Linked DNA regions of Homo sapiens. The protein of the gene in region 1 interacts with the protein of each later gene in a pairwise test. Each region holds a gene or a part of one and is shown on either strand. Other genes may lie near its edges.

Evidence for each region.
Region 2: the proteins of ARFGAP3 (region 1) and TGFBR2 interact in binary tests that used the Homo sapiens proteins (3 or more experiments, as listed by UniProt).
Region 3: the proteins of ARFGAP3 (region 1) and DNM2 interact in binary tests that used the Homo sapiens proteins (3 or more experiments, as listed by UniProt).

What each region holds. Positions count from the first base shown.
Region 1 is NC_000022.11:42,801,532-42,805,282, reverse strand, and holds part of ARFGAP3 (ADP-ribosylation factor GTPase-activating protein 3), read left to right. Parts: intron 1-3,751.
Region 2 is NC_000003.12:30,613,039-30,616,703, reverse strand, and holds part of TGFBR2 (TGF-beta receptor type-2 isoform B precursor), read right to left. Parts: exon of another isoform or gene 2,044-3,665; coding exon of another isoform or gene 1,998-2,043; intron 1-1,997. UniProt on the Homo sapiens protein: Transmembrane serine/threonine kinase forming with the TGF-beta type I serine/threonine kinase receptor, TGFBR1, the non-promiscuous receptor for the TGF-beta cytokines TGFB1, TGFB2 and TGFB3.
Region 3 is NC_000019.10:10,769,985-10,773,735, forward strand, and holds part of DNM2 (dynamin-2), read left to right. Parts: intron 1-2,494; coding exon 2,495-2,644; intron 2,645-3,751. UniProt on the Homo sapiens protein: Catalyzes the hydrolysis of GTP and utilizes this energy to mediate vesicle scission at plasma membrane during endocytosis and filament remodeling at many actin structures during organization of the actin cytoskeleton.

The DNA.
Region 1 (3,751 bases):
AGTTACTGAACAAAAATAGTGGCAGCCTGTGTTTACCTTCCTGTTCCCTTTCAGAGAACAAAGATCCATTAAATTTTTTTGACCCTGTGTGGATGCCAAACCAACCCTGGTTCCTGGCACCTCGTGGTCATTGTAAGGTGCACCCTGGGGTGAGAGGCCACCCAGAAACTCACTCCCCTGCCCCCGCCGGGGTCTAACTGTGTTGCCCAGGCTGGTCTCAAACTCCGGGCCTTGAGCAAACCTCCCTCCTCAGCCTCCCAAGAAGCTGGAATTACAGGCACCAGCAACTTTTATTAAATATTTACTTTTTATTATTCAGAGCATATTTCAACAAAGAGCTTTGTGTGTTCTGCCTCCATAAAGCTTGTTTTATTTTATAAATTTTTTTTTCTTTTATTTTGTCTTTAATACTTTCCTATTGAAGTAAAAGCTTGTTTTAAGAAAACAAGTTCTTAAAACTTGTTCTGGGCAAGGCACGGTGACTCACACCTGTAATCCCAACACTTTGGGAGGCCGAGGTAGGCGGATCACCTGAGGTCGAGAGTTCAAGAGCAGCCTGGCTAACATGGTGAAACCCCATCCCTTCTAAAAATACAAAAATTAGGCCAGTCACAGTGGCTCACGCCTGTAATCCCAGTACTTTGGGAGGCCGAGGCGGGTGGATCACGAGGTCAAGAGATCGAGACCAGCCTGGCCAACATGGTGAAGCCCCATCTCTACTAAAAATACAAAAACTAGCTTGGCGTGGTGGCATGTGCCTGTAGTCCCAGCTACTCCGGAGGCTGAGGCAGGAGTATCGCTTGAACCTGGGAGGTGGGAGTTGCAGTGTGCCGAGATCACACCGCTGCACTCCAGCCTGGAGACAGAGCGAGACTCCATCTCAAAAAAAAAAAAAAAAAAAAAAAATTAGCTGGGTGTGGTGGTGGGCGCCTGTAATCCCAACCACTCAGGCGGCTGAGGCACAAGAATTGCTTGAACCTGGGACGGGGATGTTGCAGTGGCCGAGATCGCACCATTACACTCCAGCCTGGGCAATAGAATGAGATTCTGTTTCAAAAAAAAGAAAAGGAAAAAAGAAACTATTCTGCTTGGTGGCTCACCCCTATAATCCAGCACTTTGGGAGGCTGAGGAAGACGTATCGCTTGAGCTCAGGAGTTCCAGACCAGCCTGGGCAACATGGCAAAACCGTGTCTCTACAAAAAATACAAAAATTAGCCAGGCATGGTGGTGCACACCTGTAGTCCCAGCTACTCTGGAGGCTAAGGTGGGAGGATGACCTGAGCCCAGGAGGCAGAGGTTACAGTGATCTGAGATCGTGCCACTGCACTCCAGCCTGGGTGATAGAGCCAGGCCTTGTATCAAAAAAAAAAAAAAAAAAAAAGAGGAAGGAGGGAGGGAAGGAAGGAAGGAAGGAAACAATCAGTTCTGTGTTCCTTATCTTAATTTCCAAATGTGAAACGCTTCTGGTGAGGTAAGCTGCTTTCTGGGGGTGTTTCTAGCCCAGGAGACCTGCGGCCGTTCTTACGGGCACTCTCTTTCACTGTAGCTGAAGGATTGAGTGGGAAGCGCATGTAAGTGCCTGCAGCCAACCTGACCTGGCACAGCAACAGTCCCTGTGGTCACACCCATGGGACAGGGTCATTAGAGCTGGGGGACTGCCATCAGCTGGGCACTGCCTCAGGCAGGCGTGAGGCACTCAGACACCAGATGACAGAGTGGAGGCAGCTGTGTGAGAGCCAGGATACAACAAAAAGCTTAAAACCCAGCTGCCCCCTCAGCATGTTTCCTCCCAGAAAGCCAATTCTGATTGTTTGAATGAGAGCACGTCTGCATGGGAGTGCAGACACCTGCACCCCTTCCTTGTGTGCATCGTGGGGTCAAGTGGTAGGTTGTTTGTGAGGTCCCTTAACCACTGTCTCCTTTTCTCTTTGCTCCAGCCCAGGGTCTAGGAGTGTGACCTCGAAAGCACTGCCCTCAGTCTGCATCAGGCAGTCTGGTTTGGTTATTGCCATGTGTGCTTGTCAGACAGTATAGCTGTGCAGTGGCCCCAGGAGTTCCAGACCAGCCTGGACAACATAGTGGGACCCCCATCTCTACAAAAAATTTAAAAAATAAAAAAATTAGCTAGGTGCGATGGCTAATGCCTATAGTTCCAATTACTCGGAGGCTAAGGCAGGAGGATCACTTGAACCCAAAAGATTGAGGCTGCAGTCAGCTGTGATCACACCACTGTACTCCAGCCCGGGCAACAGAGGGAGTCCCTGTCTCAAACAAACAATGCCCAAACTTGTTCTTATAATCTTGGAAATACTTTTTCTCTTCATTTGTCTGCATGAAGCAGAGAAATTAATACGTGGTATTCTATTAAAAATTCTTATTTTGGGCCAGGTGTGGTGGCTCACGCCTGTAATCCCAGCACTTTGGGAGGCCGAGGCGGGCAGATCACGGGTCAGGAGATCGAGACCATCCTGGCTAACATGGTGAAACCACATCTCTACTAAAAATACAAAAAATTAGCCAGGCATGGTGGTGGGCGCCTGTAGTCCCAGCAACTCGGGAGGCTGAGGCAGGAGAATGGCGTGAACCTGGGAGGTGGAGCTTGCAGTGAGCCGAGATCGCACCACTGCACTCCAGCCTGGGCAACAGAGCAAGACTCCATCTCAAAAAAAAAAAAAAAATTCTTATTTTGGGCCAGGCGCGGTGGCTCTCGCCTGTAATCCCAGCACTTTGGGAGGCTGAGGCGGGTGGATCACAAGGTCAGGAGATTGAGACCATCCTGGCTAACACGGTGAAACCCCATCTCTACTAAAAAATACAAAAAAAAAAAAATTATCTGGGCGTGGTGGCGGGCACCTGTAGTCCCAGCTACTCCAGAGGCTGAGGCAGGAGAATGGCGTGAACCTGGGAGGCGGAGCTTGCAGTGAGCTAAGATCGCGCCACTACACTCCAGTCTGGGTGACACAGCGAGACTCTGTCTCAAAAAAAAAAAAAAATTGTTATTTTGAGGAGCCTGGGAGTTGTCCTGGAAACTTCCACCTCCCACGTCACACCATAGACCCATATGATCAGAATCTCTCCTGGGTGACTCCAGACCTGAAACGTGGCCACAACCCGCTGCTTGGTCCTCCTGCCTCCAGTCTTGGCTGCTGCTCACCCCTCTCCTCACTCTTCCCACAGGGATCTTTCAGAACACAGTCATCTGTGCTGAAAATCCTGCCCTCAGCTTGAAGCACAGCTCCCCACCCAATGCCCACCTCCAGGACCATGGTTCCCACTGGCCTTTCCAGCCTCATTTCTCGTGATTCACTGTTGTGGCTCACTCCAGCTGTGTTGAGCCTGTGGAGCCCCCAGCCCAGAATGCTCTTCTTCCCCATTCCCCCAGACAGCCCCGCAACCCGTATTTACCCTGGGGGCCTGGTTAGGCCCCCTTGCACCACTCTTGTGCCTTACACTGAGGGCAAGACCATGCGAAGACCGTCTCCCCCAGTGGACTGTCAGTTCTCATTTCTGTGCCCTTGGCGCCTGACAGCCTGGCAGAGGAAGCCCTCTGCAGGTGTTTGAGGATGAATGGGTGGAGGGGTGATGAATGACCCCAAGGAGCTTGCTGAGTCTGAGCACCTGCCCACCGGCCAACATAGGCTGGAACACGCCTCCCCCTACCTCCCATGTCCCATGGCCAGTGCCAGGCTGCAGGGGCGATGTGTTCCGCCTCCAGCACAAGCCTTAAGAGCTGTGCGCATGTTGCCATGT
Region 2 (3,665 bases), on another chromosome or scaffold:
TTTCTATTTTGATTAGCTAAAGATTTTCTAACTCAACTTCAATGATTTATTCTACTAACAAAATAGTACAGGGATAACAAAGAATGAAATGTTTCAGAAGAGAAAATACTGGAAATCTTATTTAGTCCAATTCTTGTCACTGTATAGAAGGAAAATGAGCCCCAGTGGGAAGAAAGACAGCCTGGTCACCCAGACACCTAGATTCCTGGTACAACATACCTTAGTCTTTACCAGCTGTCTCCTAGGTAGAGTCCTTCTAATCTCAAACTAAGGGTCAGAGCTAGGTTATCTTTCATCCAAGATGAAGGTTTGTGATAATTACATCTTTGCAACTTCTTTTCTACTTGGCATGGGGCTCTAAAGTAGGAAAATGATGAAGGGTTTAGCTAAACCTGGAGGAAAAATATTTTGGTTTTGTGAAATAACAATGCAGATTTCAGTCTCTGTTTGCAATGGGGGGAAGGAGGAAGAGGCATTTTTTAACATTTATTTTCTAAACCAACAAACAAATCCTACCATTAGTCAAAGACTCAGGTCTTTGGAATCTGAAGCTTGTAAATTTCAGGGGCACTCTTTAAGAAGAAGAATACAAAATTAAGAATAAAGTGAATATAAAATTAAGAATAAAGTGAATATTTATTTAGAATTAAAATGGCATACAGGCCGGGTGCAGTGGCTTACACCTGTAATCCTAACACTTTGGGAGGCAGAGGTGGACAGGTTCCTCTGAGCCCCAGTGTTCAAGACCAGACTTGGTACATAGTAAGACACCATCTCTACAAAAATTAAAAAACAACAAAAAACAAAAAACTGGCCGGTCTTGGTGGTGCATGCCTTTAGTCCGAGCTACTCTAGAGGACTGCTTGAACCTAGGACTCCAAGGCTGCAGTGAGTTATGATTATGCAACTGCTTTCCAGACTGAGTGACAGAATGAGATCTCATCTCTGGAAAAAAAATTTTAAATAGTATCATACAAACAACAAATTTTTAAAAGCTATAAATACTACAAATATGAAGTGTTTAAAAAACAAATATTTTTATTAACTGATTGCCATACCTCTGAAATAATTCTCCTATATTTTTTGGTTGCACACTCTTTGATCATCTCTTCCAATAACATTTTGCAATATTCTCTATTGAGAGAATAGAAAAATAATTCAGTCTTCCCTTTAGAAATGTAGATCAGAATTTGTAATTTATTCTTGAATAATTTGGAAAAGTTCCTTTCAGCTTCATAATTCATTACAGGTAATGTCATATAAATTTTTTGGATTGACTTCAAATTTGGAAAACTTTTATCAGGTTTCTTTTATATGTGAGCTGTAAGATTCAGGGCACTGCAAGATTTCGTAGTATTTGACTTGATGACACTTGTTAACCACATTGCCAGGGCCTCTCCTAGAGCCAGGAGATGGACCTATACCAGGGTATAGGTAGCCTTGAAGGTTAAGTTCAAGCACTTCACAGTAAATCCACCTGAGCCTGGCATTTATATCCTCAACATATTTGATGCATCTGTGAAGTCTCCCAGTCCTTTCAAATAAAGTGCCTGTTTTACTCAGAATACCTAAACTTCCTGATGGCATAATTGTTCCATGATTCAGCCAAGACTGTATCACTTGAGGTATACACTTCATTTTTCCATTGAGATCACAAGACAGGCATGATGTTTGACTACCTGGTGTATAAACCGAGTGTTATTTTATTACACTAAGAAAATGCAATGGGATAATATATGAAGAATGCTAAAACACTAGAAAAATGTTGGATATTATTATTTCTCTTAACCTCTAGTCTTCCAACACCCATGCTATAATGGACAAGTAGTTTATGTCAATTAAGGCAGACTAGTCTCAGTACAGTATAACAATTAGGAATCTAGATCCCCAAACCAGACCATCTTGGTTCCAACCCCAGCCTAATCATTTTCTAACTAGGTGGACTTAGGCAAATTTATTGACTCTGGAGGATTTATAATAAGCATAATATAACCTACCTTCTAAAGTTGTTTTGAGGGTTAATACACCTGAAGTACTCAGCATGATCCGTGCAGTAGCAAGACCTCAATAAGTGGTAGCTACTATGATTATTGGGAAATTAGTCCATGAAGTCTCTTGAGAAAAGCTACAGGGGAAATAAGCCCAATTTCATTTCCCTATGTAGAAAAGTTTGCAGGATTTGGGCGTGACAGGTAGTCATCCACAAAGCAGCAGTGTTATCGCCCCATAGGAAATGAAGACTTCGTAATGATTTATACTTTAATAAAGAGCTGCTGCAGCATATACTGAAAATATGCACCCAACCCATATCTTCTTTCAAAGGCATTCATGTTGGTTCAACCAAATCCCTAGTTCTCTAAAATGAAGTTTTGACAATCTTATATCTTCTAAAGCACTGAGAAGCCTTTTTCCTTGTTTTCTTTAAAGAGGCTTGAGAAGAACCAAGCCTTTTTTTGGTTCAAATAAAATATTTACAATAGGAGGAAAAAACATTCAGATAAACTTCACCTTGCCCGCCTGGTGGTCTCTCAATACACAGAAGAAATGCAACTAGGGCACTAGGAAATCTAAAAAAAAAAAAAAAAAAAGGAAAGAAAAAAAGTATAGAGCTAAAGTTCACTTCAGGACAACGCAAACTAAGAAAAACTACATTTCCCAAAGGAAATAGAGCACTATGTCTACAAAGTAACTCATTTTTTCTTTAATGTTCAATGTTGTCTATTCCAGGGAAAAAATGGTACAATTAACCAAAACTTATTTCTACCCAACATCTCTGCAAAGGAATGTTGCTGCTGCAGATCCACCCCCAACATGGGAAGGCCCAAGGCAAGTGAGCAAATAGAGGCCCATGTACCATAAGTCAAAACATTTAAAGTTACAAATCAAGCTAGCAAACTGCTCAATAAAATAGGTGTTATCCTTCTACCTAGACTGACAAATATATCTTTTCAATGTCTTGGAAGACCAGGTACAACTTTAGAACTCCTACAATGTTCATAGTCCTTCCACAGAAATGGGTGGTTTAAAGAGAGACATCATCCTGAGCCCTGGTAATCAATTTGCCTTCCTCCCCCCTGCCTGCTCCATCCTACATCAAGAGGGGCCTTGTGATATGTGGACACCCAAGCTCGCTCTCTGTCTCTCTCTCTCTTTCTCTCTCTCTCTCTCTCTCTCTCTCACATACAGACACACACACACACAGAGCTATCCCTTAAACAACCCTCGTGCAGAGATTGCACAACCAGTAGCAATGACAGCCTTCAGGAAGATGGCTTCAAGGATCCATGCAAACTGCAGATACCAGTTCAGGGCCTTCTGGACAGCGAATGTGGGTTCCCACATAACCAAATCATGGTCTAAAAATGAAAAGAGAGTAAGACTGGAAGGCCCAAAAGTCACCTCACCCCATAGGCATGGCTCTGACCAGAGAAGAATGACAGCAGAGTACCATCTAAGGCCCAGGACAGAGGCCAGTTGTGTTCATATACTAGGTCTATATTTTAGTTGTAGAGCTGAAAAAAATTGGAGGAAAATATTCCCTCAGAAAAGAGAAGAAAAAAAAAAAAAAAAAAGAGCTGCATGTCTTGACCTTTCCCAGATAGAATCTCCCCAGTCATAGGTACGGGCCCTGAAGCTAAATCTCATCTAATAATGATAGCTTCAAA
Region 3 (3,751 bases), on another chromosome or scaffold:
ATCACGGAACTTGGCCCAAGGCCCTTAACCCCTCTGGGCCTCAGTTTTGTCATCTTTGAAATGGGGATCTTAGAGATGCCTACCTGTCAAGGGACTTGTGAGGCGCAACGGGACCACACGCAGGGCCTGGCCAGAGTGCCGTAGTTTCTTCGGTTGCCATGATGGGACGGTGAAACTCCTCACACTCTTCTTTCTGCCTTGAAGATTCTAGACCTGGCTGGGTGTTCATCTCCCTTTTTGCCTTTGCTTGAGGCAGTTTATGGCATGGCTGTGTTATTCACGTCGCCAGGTCTCCTCCTGGTGGACGTTGAGGCCATTTTCATTTTTTTACTCTTAAAAACGACAGGGCAGTGCGCATCTTCGCATCTCCGGGGTGGGTCAGGTCTCTGACCTCTTTGCCAGTGTGACTTATTACCCCTTTCTTTCTTTGTTTTTCTTTTTGAGACAGTGTCTTGCTCTGTCGCCAGGCTGGAATGCAGTGGTGTGATCATAGATCATAGCTCACTGCAACCTCCAGCTCCTGGCTCAAATGATCCTCCCACTTCAGCCGATATTAATCCATTTTCATGCTGCTGATAAAGACGTATTTGAGACCGGGCAATTTACAAAAGAAAGAGGTTTAATGGAGTTACAGTTCCACACAGCTGGGCTGGGGAAGCCCCACAATCATGGCAGAAGGCAAGGAGGAGCAAGTCACATCTTATACGGATGGCAGCTGGCAAAGAGAGTGAGAGAGCTTCTGCAGGGAAACTCCTGTTTTTAAAACCATCAGATCTCGTGAGACTTATTCTCTATCACGAGAATAGCACGGGAAAGACCCACCCCCATGATTCATTGATCTCCCACTGGGTCCCTGCTACAACACAAGGGAATTATGGGAGCTACAAGATGAGATTTGGGTGGGGACACAGAGCCAGACCATATCAGCCTCCCAAGTAGCTGGAACTACAGGTGTGCGCCAACATGCCTGGCTAATTTTTTAAATTTCTGTAGAGACGGGGTCTCACTGTGTCACCCAGGCCGGTCTTGAACTCCTGGGCTCAAGTGATCCACCCTCCTCGGCGTCCCACAGTGCTGGATAATAGGCGTGAGCCACTGTGCCCAGCCATTTCCCCCTTATTTTTAGCATCACTACAGTAGCTGTGATCTCTGAGCTTTGGGGATATCCCCTCCCCAACATTTTACTCTGAAAATTCGAACATCTGGAAACGTCAAGGCTTTGTACAGTGGACACCTGTGTACTCGGCAGCCACCTTCCGTGATGAACATGCCTTATATTTGCTTTGTCCTCAATCTGTGATTCGGGACTGGATTTCTCTTGTTTCCTGGTGGGACCCACACTGCTTGTCAATTACTTATTTTGTTCCCCTTCATCCCAGTCTTGCTGTGACTTTCAGATACCCCCGGGTCTTATATACACTCAGGGTTATACCCAGAAAACATTTCTCCTGGGGGATTTGTCTCTAGGTAGGGGGCCCTCTTGAATAGTCAGGGGGAGAAAGAAAGACTCAAGACCAGCTCTGAGGAGGCGGCAGGGGTGCCCCTTCCCTCTACCTTGTGGGCTCCTTGGGGAAGAAGGACAAGTGAGTGCCATGAGAAATACCCCTGGGGATTTTGTGGAGCTGGAATGTGCTGGTGGACCATGAATCCACAAGGACTTGGGCATCGAACTCCCTTGACTGGGACCCACAGCAAGGGAGGCTCTGCAGCATCACCTTAATCAAATGGACTCACCCTCTCTGGGTGATGTATCCTGGTGCTTCCTCTTCTGTTCATCAGTCAATCAACAAATAAATGGCTGGGCGTGGAGGCATATGCCTGTAATCCCAGAAACTTTGGTCATTGGTTATGTCTACCTGTTTATTTTTGGGGGAGGGGGATTCATAATATGTCATGACGTATATTAACAGTTTGCAAAGTGCCACATGGGAACGTAATCTTCAGGATCTGGAAAGAGGCTCAGTCTATTCAGTCTATAGGAACCCCCGCCTCCCCCAAGACCCTTGTCATGAGAACGAATCTTTCACTCCCAAATTCCTAGAGTGACGATGATTGGGTCATTATTTTCTTTTTTATTTTATTTTATTTTATTTTATTTATTTTTTTATTTTTTTGAGATGGAGTCTTCTCTGTCTCCCAGGCTAGAGTGCAGTGGCGCAATCTCGGCTCACTACAACCTCCGCCTCCCGGGTTCAAGCAATTATCCTGCCTCAGCCTCCTGAGTAGCTGAGACTACAGGCATGTGCCACCATGCCAGGCTAATTTTTTGTATTTTTAGTAGAGACAGGGTTTCACCATGTTAGTGAGGATGGTCTGAATCTCCTGACCTTGTGATCTGCCCACCTCTGCCTCCCAAAGTGCTGGGATTACAGGCGTGAGCTACTGTGCCCAGCCTGGGTCATTACTTTCATTCAACAAAGCATTTCTCCCCGCAGTCCATGCGCACCCTGCCCACAGCTCTTTCTCATTTTCAGCATCTCTCTTCCCTTTCTAGAACATGCCGAGTTTTTGCACTGCAAGTCCAAAAAGTTTACAGACTTTGATGAAGTCCGGCAGGAGATTGAAGCAGAGACCGACAGGGTCACGGGGACCAACAAAGGCATCTCCCCAGTGCCCATCAACCTTCGAGTCTACTCGCCACACGGTAGGCAGCACGGGTGGGGACCCATCACTGACCGTTTCTGGTCGTTCATGGACAGTGCTATGGGTGAGCCTGTGTACTTCCACTCATGGGTATCATGTGCCCATTCACAAACAGTTGATATTCACACACACATAGCCCCTTGATCTGTATCTTCCCACTTGTGCTAGGTATGTAGTACCCAGACCTCTGTCTCAGCTTGAAGAAAGAGCATGCCAAGAAGTTGTTTGGAGTGGTGGGGGATTGCAGCCATTTCCCCCTTTTACCAAGGGCAGCCACCACTTGGCTCAAGGCAGCCAGATCTGCTGGTGCCTCAAGAGAGGCCAGAACCAGTCTTCTGTAAAATATCCTGGGTTTTTTTTTTTTTTTTTTGAGACAGAGTCTTGCTCTGTTGCCCAGTCTGGGGTTCAGTGGTGTGATCTCTGCTCGCTGCAACCTCCACCTCCCAGGTTCAAGCAATTATTGTGCCTCAGCCGCCCAAGTAGCTGGGATTACAGGCATGCACCACTACACCCAGCTAATTTTTTTTTTTTTTTTTTTGAGATGGAGTCTCGCTCTGTCGCCCAGACTGGAGTACAGTGGTGTGATCTCAGCTCACTGCAGTCTCCGCCTCCCAGGTTCAAGCTATTCTCCTGCCTCAGCCTCCCAAGTAGCTAGGACTAGAGGCAACTGCCGCCACGCCTGGCAAATTTTTTGTATTTTTAGTAGAGATGGGATTTCACCATATTGGCCAGGCTTGTCTCAAACTCCCGACCTTGTGATCTGCCCACTTTGGCCTCCCAAAATGCTGGGATTACAGACGTGAGCCGCCGCGCCCGGCCAAATTTTTTTTTTTTTTTTTGAGACAGAGTCTCGCTCTGTTGCCCAGGCTGGAGTGTAGTGGCGCAATCTCCACTCAATGCAACCTTCACCTCCCGGGTTCAAGCAATTCTCTGGCCTCAGCCTCCCGAGTAGCTGGGATTACAGGTGTGTACCACCCTGCCTGGCTAATTTTTTTTTTATTTTTTATTTTTTTTATTTTTAGTAGAGACGGGGTTTCACCATGTTGCACAGGCTGGTCTCGAACTCCTGAGCTCAGGCAATCCACCCACCTCAGACTCCCAAAGTGCT